2 linked regions of the Homo sapiens genome follow. The protein of the gene in region 1 interacts with the protein of each later gene in a pairwise test. Each region holds a gene or a part of one and is shown on either strand. Other genes may lie near its edges.

What was found. The genes of interacting proteins can lie anywhere in the genome.
Region 2: the proteins of VGLL1 (region 1) and LONRF1 interact in binary tests that used the Homo sapiens proteins (3 or more experiments, as listed by UniProt).

Annotation. Positions count from the first base shown.
Region 1 is NC_000023.11:136,548,280-136,553,840, forward strand, and holds part of VGLL1 (transcription cofactor vestigial-like protein 1), read left to right. Parts: intron 1-309; coding exon 310-729; intron 730-2,488; coding exon 2,489-2,542; intron 2,543-2,598; exon of another isoform or gene 2,599-2,681; intron 2,682-5,561. UniProt on the Homo sapiens protein: May act as a specific coactivator for the mammalian TEFs.
Region 2 is NC_000008.11:12,731,527-12,735,026, reverse strand, and holds part of LONRF1 (LON peptidase N-terminal domain and RING finger protein 1), read left to right. Parts: intron 1-3,169; coding exon 3,170-3,291; intron 3,292-3,500.

The sequences.
Region 1 (5,561 bases):
CATGAGCCACTGTGCCTGGCCTATTCATTTCTATAGGAGGCTTTTCATGATATTTTAATGAAGCAAAAATGGCTTGAATAACAATATATGTTGTGAAAACAATGCATACATGAATAGAAACCAATCCTAGAAACAGTACACCTACGGAGGACAATGGCTGTTTCTGGATATTATCATTAGGATGATTTTATTTTAGCTTTTCTGTATTTCCTTCAAGTTAAAAAAAATAGAGTATGTATTAAAAAAAAAACTACATCCATTTTGAAAACAATAAACACCTAACATGTCTTCTAAATCTTTCCTTCTCAGATGATAGCATGTCTCCAAATCAGTGGCGTTACTCGTCTCCATGGACAAAGCCACAACCAGAAGTACCTGTCACAAACCGTGCCGCCAACTGCAACTTGCATGTGCCTGGTCCCATGGCTGTGAATCAGTTCTCACCGTCCCTGGCTAGGAGGGCCTCTGTTCGGCCTGGGGAGCTGTGGCATTTCTCCTCCCTGGCGGGCACCAGCTCCTTAGAGCCTGGCTACTCTCATCCCTTCCCCGCTCGGCACCTGGTTCCAGAGCCCCAGCCTGATGGGAAACGTGAGCCTCTCCTAAGTCTCCTCCAGCAAGACAGATGCCTAGCCCGTCCTCAGGAATCTGCCGCCAGGGAGAATGGCAACCCTGGCCAGATAGCTGGAAGCACAGGGTTGCTCTTCAACCTGCCTCCCGGCTCAGTTCACTGTAAGGAAATGCCTACAGATACTTGGAGGGGTGCCTCTGATTGGTTGTGGTTGAGAGTGAGTTGGCATGAGATGAGGTGCCAAGACTAATTGCTGCCACTCTGGACATAGGGCTGCTGAGGGAAGGGATGTTCTGCTTAAATGTTCCATACATCTTCACTAGGCTTCATTGACATTCACAGTTTAATAGCTAAAGGGTTACATAGATAGCCAGCCAGATGGACTTGGCCCGAAGTACTCACCCTAGCCTGTCAACTTGGCCTTACCTTAGAAAAATGATGGGCTGCTGCGTAATATCGCAGGGTCCTGTGTTTACCTCATTGGGAGCAATTAAATAAGCCATTTGCAGAACAGAGCTCTGTGACGTACCTACAGGCTCAAACTGTAGCCTCTAAACAGGTTGGCAACTTGCAGTGATGTCAGGCTCCAGGCAAACAACAAGGGCAATCTATACCAACCATCTGCTCCACACATTAAAATTCAAAGCGACTGTAGGAGGCAGCCCCATTGCTGCTTGGAGACCTAACAGTGCCTGACTGTCCTTGGCTTGCTCCTGCACTCTGGGATCCTCCTGCTTGGTTTCCCTTGGGTTCCTGCTCCCTGACCACCACCCCTCCCCTGAACTAAAAACACCCTTAAGGCTTACTCACCTCTTCATTCACTCATTCACCCAGCAAATATTTAATTTGCGCCTACCAGATGCAAAATATCCATCAGAAAACAAGGCTCCCTTCTTTGTAAAAGGACGGGGAAGAATTGGCATTAATTATACTTCCACCAAAAAATCAACCTACTCTGTTGCAAGATTTGCCTTTAATATGAAACACTTATAAATATATATTTTATAGTTTCATGGAACCAAGTCTGCATCCTCTGCCATTCTGTACTCTGGACGAATTTTCTTTTGCAGCTTCCTTGTCCATACATAGTGTGGTTCTAGTGTTCCATGCCTGAAAGAAATTACTAGAAGCCATCTTTACACTGAACTAAGCATATAGTAAACAAAAGGCCTGTTCAGCATAGCCTACCTAAGTCAGGCACTGTGTTCTATTCTAATGTGGAAAACAAATTTCCCATTAAAATACCACTCTGTCATTTCCAGAATTTGATTAGGAATGTACTTAAGGAGTAAATCATAGAAGTGTCATGTTTGGGAAACCTGTGAAATTTCCTACCCCTCTACTCTTTTTCAAAAGTCCTTTCCTACTGGATTCACAGGGAAAATTAGGCCAACTGTGCTTGTATATATGCCTGTGCATACACACAGCAAAGCCCTGTTTCGACAGTAGGTTAGAACACAGATGGCTGAAATCATCACCTTCCAAACTTAGCAACTCTTTACAGTTCAAGTCCAATTCAGCAAATATTTAGTGAGCATCTACTGTAAGCAAGGCACATCATGGTGAAACTAATGCAGGCATTGTCCTATTCCTGAAATCTCAAGACACATTCACAAACAAATGGTTATCACCAAGGTCTTCATGCTCTACTCATGTTGACATGAGTTGTATTAATTGGTGACTGGAAGTCCAGGATCTGTTGAGGAAGTCAGTGACCCTTAATCAGGAACACTGCCTTGGAAGGTGGTGGACCTTTAAAACAGAAGCTTCTCAGTTTTTGTAGCATCTGATATGAGAGAATATGCTAGATATTCATAAACTTAGGGCCAGGCAATGTGGGGCCCCTGGAATGCTACTGGGCACTCTCTAACCTAGTCCTAGAAATTTCAGTTCCAATAATGTTTTCTTCTTCTTTTCTAGATAAGAAACTATATGTATCTCGTGGATCTGCCAGTACCAGCCTTCCAAATGAAAGTAGGTATCTGGGCCAGCCTTTGATGGTGTGTGTCTGTATCCTGAGAACGAACTTGAGAAATAAGGCTTCTGTCTACTACTGGAGACACTGGTAGTATAAAACCCAGAGTCTCCAGTAATGGACGGGAGCCTTATTTCTATCACTCAGTGTTTTCATAGATAGAATTTGTTTCATTTTAGCCTCAAAAAAGAGTATATGCACTTCCTATCTTGTAAAATTTTATTTTGCTATAGAAGAAACTCTCCTTAGTTTCTTTTTTCTTTTCTTTCTTTCTTTTTTTTTTAACCTGAGTTTGACTTAACTGAAGTAGCCAAGGTGACTCAGAAAAATTAAGAAATTCATGAGGATGAGGATTAGCTTGCTATGTCCCAGATGTTCAGTTTTCAGCCTAGTATTCTTTTATTTATTTCTTTTTTTTTAACCTGAGCTGGACTTAACTGAAATAGCCAAGGTGACCCAGAAAAATTAAGAAATTCATGAGGATGAGGATTAGCTTGCTGTGTCCCAGATGTTCAGTTTTCAGCCTAGTACATAGGGCCACCCCAGGACTCTGCAGTCAGTGAAAATGTCAACTGAGGCATGAGGCCAGGACTCTGAGCTCCACACTCAATTTGAAAGTGGTGTCAGTGGGAACTTACAAAAGAGGACAATCTGGGTGGAATGACAGGAGGATCTTCATGACCTGGGTTCAGGGTCAATTGCCAGCTTTATTATTTACTTGCTTCAGGAACCTGGTCACATTTCTTAACCACTTCATGCCCCAGTTGCTTCATTTTTGTCAAATAAGCATAAAATAGTGCCCACCTCATTGGGTGAGGTGTGAGGAGTAAATGAAATAATGTATACCAATGCTTAGAATAATGGCTGGCACATTACTCTAAGCGTTGGCATACATTAAACCATCAAGAATTCTTTTTGGAGGGCATCCTGTGTTCCCCAAGCTGTGCTCTGTGTGCTGTGTTTAAGAGAGGACTCAAGCTGGGTGTGGTGCCTCACACATGTAATCCCAGCACTTTGTGAGGCCAAGGCGGGAGGAACACTTGAGCCCAGGAGTTAGAGACTAGCCTGGGCAACATAGCAAGACCCTCATCTCCATAAAAAATAAAAATAGAGAGGATCCAAAGGAAGAGCCACTACCACAGCCCCTGATCTCAGGCATTTGACAGTCTGGTGTGAAGTAGGGGTGAGGGCAATCTATAGACCCCACTAGAATGTCAACCCCATGAGGACTGAGACTTTGAGAGGTATACCACTGTATCCCTAGCACCTTGCACAGTGGTATACAAATTTGTTGAATAAATGAATGAGTGAATGCTGGAAACAATAAAAGAGCATTTAACAAGGAAACAGTAAGAAAATGTAGTAATGTAGTAAAAATTATTCCAATGTAGTAAAAATTATTCTGTTTGATGCCTTCGTGTGAGAGACAAACAAAACAAAAACCAACCCTGGTGATTAATTGGCCATGCCTCCATGAGGAGATTCATTTAGAGCTGGTTCAAAAGCCTTAGCATAGCCAAGGCAGGCATCACATAAGTCCCTGCCCAAGGAAATGAGTTCTGCTGGCCTTCTAACTTATGAAAGGCAAGGATTGTGGTGTTTCCTGAGTACTTGTTAATAGTTTCTACATTTGTTTATTGTGAGTCTCAGAATTACTGATAACTTGATGCTTAAAATTGTTCATAGACTAAAACTAACAGCAACAACAACATGTATTGGGTGTTGACTATGAGCCACATACCACATACTCCATCTTGCTTAGTCCCCACCATGACCTTGTGAGGTGTATGTGAATATGTCCTAGGTGCTTTACTCAACCGATATTCAGTAAATAGTGATTGAATGAATGAATATCCCCATTTTATAGATGAAGAAACTGGATCTCAAAAAGGTGAAAGGACTTGCCTTAAATCACACAGCAGCAAGTGGCAGATGCAGTATTATCTCCTTGCTCTCACAGTGTCATAAAATTATCAGAAACAATTCCAAGTTAAATCAAGTATACAACAGTGAAAATTAGTCACTGGTGAGATTATTTTACCACACATGAGTTCACTGTCTATCTGGGACCAGGGCACTATCCTAAAATAAAGGAAGGGGGATGCAGAAGGCTCAGAAAGCAAGCAAAAGAGCAAAGAAAAATATACCTTTGGGAAAGAAGGTGGGGGATGTTCTTTCCTTGCAGAGAGTAGTTGAGGAAAGGTGGCTATGCCAACAGGCCCAAGTCTGCCTTTCTAACACTGTGGCCCTGGGCAGAGGGAGGTAACATGGAGCTGAGAGGAAGAGAAGGGACTTCCTAGGGCTCCAAGTAAAAGGACAATGGAACCCAGCAAAGCCCATGCTCTTAAGCATGACACCAGTCTCCCAATCTTGCCTGATGGTACGAACCACCTGGGGAGCTTGTTCACTGCCCAGATCCTGCTCCCCCACTTCCTGGGGGAGTAGATTTGGCATGAGACTCAGTTGCCTCTTCATGTTTTATTCTTTTTTTTTTTTTTTTTTTTTGAGATGAAGTTTTGCTCTTGTTGCCCAGGCTGGAGTGCAATGGCGCAATCTCGGCTCACTGCAACCTCCGCCTCCTGGGTTCAAGTGATTCTCCTGCCTCAGCCTCCCAAGTAGCTGGGATTACAGGCACCCGCCACAATGCCTGGCTAATTTTTTGTATTTTTAGTAGAGATGGGGTTTCCCCATGTTGATCAGGCTGGTCTTGAACTCCTGACCTCAGGTGATCAGCCCGCCTTGGCCTCCCAAAGTGCTGGGATTACAGGCGTGAGCCACTGCTCCTGGCCTCATGTTTTATTCTTTATATAATTTATATTAACCTCATTTAAAAGTGAACTACATGAACCTTTCAGTGGAAATTTAGGTTGTTCTGAAAGATTTCCTATGTGAGGCTCCAGAAAAATATTTGTCAAGGAAGGGAGGCAGAGTCTCCTCCTGCCCCTCCGATATGGCCCTAGTCCCCTCATGTGGGCTGTCATGCATCTATGAAGCAGGGGCATGTGGAGCAGAAGAGTC
Region 2 (3,500 bases), on another chromosome or scaffold:
TTAGTTATCTGGTCAGGGATAAGTTCAATTTTGGTGATGACTATACTGGGGAAACCCTATTGCCCTGCCTCCAACCCTCAATAATAAGCCAGATGTGAGGACTGTTTCAGCTTCCTCAACATCTAGAACAACTTTGTTCAATAGAATTTTCTGCATTGATGGAAATGTTCCATATCTTTGCTGTCAGATATATTAGCCATTAGCCATGTTTGCCTGTTAAGCTTTTAAATATGGTTAGTGTCACTGAGGAACTATATTTACATTTTATTAACTTAAATTTAAGTAGGCACATGTGACTAATGGCTGCGACATTGGGCAATGCAGCTCTAGAAAAGTGGTAGATTGGAAAGAAGAGAGGGAGGTACAGCTTCCTATTCCCCTTCTTGTAGAGTCAGTGATCAGTGCTAATAACCTGTGATAGGAAAGTAGCTAGATCTCAGTGGATGTCTTCTCTAATTGATGAGAAGAGAGCACCCTCTTAATCATGCTTGAGTGACTGCAGATCACCTACTGTCAGGCTAAAGCCTGTGATTCTGAGAGGCAATTGCAGTTTGTAGCGTTGATTGGGGAAAGTGATTCTGTCTCTGGTGATTGACAGGATTGCTTAAAAAAAAGTATCTTCCAAATATGAATTGAAAAATTCATAAAACCATTATGAATATACATACAGTATTTCCTGTATAGAAAACAACTCAGTACGGATGTCATAATAGCATGTCTGTTATTACATTTGATATGTGTCTTACATATATAACAAGCTGATATGTAAAACAAAAGCATATTTAGAATTTTCTCAAAGTCAGGAAACATCAGATACATTTATTCTTAAAAGAGTTTGTTAGTTACATTTTTAGCTAATATGCTCAATGTTTTTAGATGAAGTACTGTAAACATGCTATTTTTCCAGACTTCATTTAAATACCCCCCCAGGATAACTATGATGCTTGTTTTTCCAGATTAACTGTTAGGTTGGTGCAAAAGTAATTGTGGTTTTTGGCATAATATTAGATCTATTGCTTTGATTAGGGATATTCCCTCTTTAAAAAATGTCTGGAGATTGAAAAATATATACTAAGCATATTTTTTGAAAGTATAACTAACATACTATTTAGCAATATCCTGTTTCCAACTTTGAAGATACCCTGCGTAATATAATTTGTAAATTCAAAATACATATACTTTAAAAAAGATTGGTATGCTGTTCAGTTTTACATTTTTCCTACTTGTCATTTTATTTTGCTCATTTTTCCATTTCCATCTATTTTAGATACATTGTTTTTATAGCAGCATAATAGTCCAGTGATTTAACATTTCTTTGTTGTTGGATATATAAGGTTTCTTGTTCTCTTTTTTATATACTATGCTTTTGCCAACATCATTTAAAATGAATGATTTTATGCATCTTTATGTAATCGAAGATATTATGACAGATATTATATATCTGTCACTGAAGGACAGAGTTGAGGTCTGCTCCTCTACTCAGTAGTGGGTGACAATGGAAGAAAAACTTGAAAGAAAAATTATCTACAGACTGTGTCTGAAATTGGGAACAAAACAGATGTTTTGCTTTTCTTAAATAAGGCAATAACCATTTCCTTAGGTTAAATTTTTGGGAGGTGAATTATTGGATCAAAAGCCATATATTTATGAAGCCCTTAAAACCAATTGTTGGATTGCCTCATCCCCAGAAATGTTACATTTATTGAGATTTTTATCAGTAATGTAAGAGTGGCTGTATTTCCCTAGATGTTTAAACATCTTTATTAACTTAATAGAAAATGATAATGGAATTGCTTTTATGACAGCTAATTTGATTAATTTTGTGATAAACACTTATTATCTGTGTATATACTACCTGCCCAAGGCCACCTCTCCCCATGCTCCCCTGACCAGCAGCATCTGTCACCTGACAACTTGTTAGAAACATAGATTCTTGGACCCTACCCCAGATGCTCAGAGACTCTGGCGTGGGGCTCAGTAGTCTGTATTTTAACAAGCCGCGATTCATGCTAAACTTTGAAAACCACCACCAGTTTCCCAACCTCTCGCATTTCCCCATCTACTCTTCATTGGATAATGACAAAACCCTTGCTTTTACTGACTGCAGATTCAAGGATGGCTTCATCTTGTGATAGTTTCCCAGGAGGTTTTCCTCACTAATTTTATGAAATAAATATGTATTGGGCATTTTCTTTGTACAAAGTTCTGTGCATACACCCTGACCATGTCCCTGGCCCTACCCTAAGCAATTTTTAGTTTAACTACAGAGATGTAATATATCTGTGTACATATACTACACGCTACAATGCCTACTATGTGGTAAAAACAGTAAAATATGGGTTCTTGGGAGAGAAAAAAATAATTAAGGAAGAGTTTGTGAAAAAGGTAAAATTGGAGTCAGACCTTGAAGGATAGACATGTTTTGCATAAGCAGGAGTGAGAGAGATGGCTTTTGTAAGTTGGAATAGAGAATAACACAAAAATGCATGAGGATAGTACTTTTTCAGAGTATTTAGGGGTCAGCGCAAATGTAAGATTTTATATAGAGCTGGGGTAGATGGATCATACAGGAAAAGCAATATCTTGATAAGGGTCTGAGTGATAGTGTCCCAAGAAACGCACCTTCCTTGGGTCACTCAAGGACAGAGTTGAGGTCTGCTCCTCTACTCAATAGTGGGTGACAATGGAAGAAAAATCTGAAAGAAAATTTATCTAGAGACTGTGTCTGAAATTGGGAACAAAACAGATGTTTTGCTTTTCTTAAATAAGGCAAATGTGTTATTTTATTTATTCCTTATCCCGTTTTTGTATCTCAGTTAAAATGATAGTTTAGTGCCCATGAGCTGTCAGGTGGAAAAGGGCCTCTGTTGTGGAAGACGGCAGGGCAGGGCCCTCTGCGGCTAATAGAGAAGCTGTGGTCACAGCAGGAAGCAGTTCTTCTGTACAGGGCTTGGTTCAGGTTGCAGCCAACTATCTTTACTGCTCTTGTGCAAAGCCTCAGACAGGTTTTTTTGCTTAGCATCATCCATTGTAATGTTCCCCTCACTAATTAATCCAGAATTGATGGTATAAGTATGTAATAAAGGCTTTAATATATCAGTTAACTGTGTTGCCTGTTTTATACTGTAGGAAAACCACTGCTGGAATGTAAAATAATATTGTCTTTTAGTATCTAGCAGATAGGAGGTACTGTGTCACACAGCTGTTGGAAGAATTAATAGTGAAGTATCTGCCTGATGAACTGTCTGAGAGAAAAAAAATATATGATGAAGAAACTGCTGAACTCTCACAGTAAGTTTCTTCTCATAAAAAAAATTATGAACTACTACCCTTTAATAGTAAGGAAAAACCTCACCGCAAGCTGGATCCTGTCTTTAGTTCATCTCAGTCTAGTCAAGAAGTATTGGTCTGTTTCCGTGGTCCTCAACAGACAGAATCTTATAAAAGTTCACTTGGTAACATCCGGATGTTTTATAGGGAGTTATTGACTCAGCTCTGTG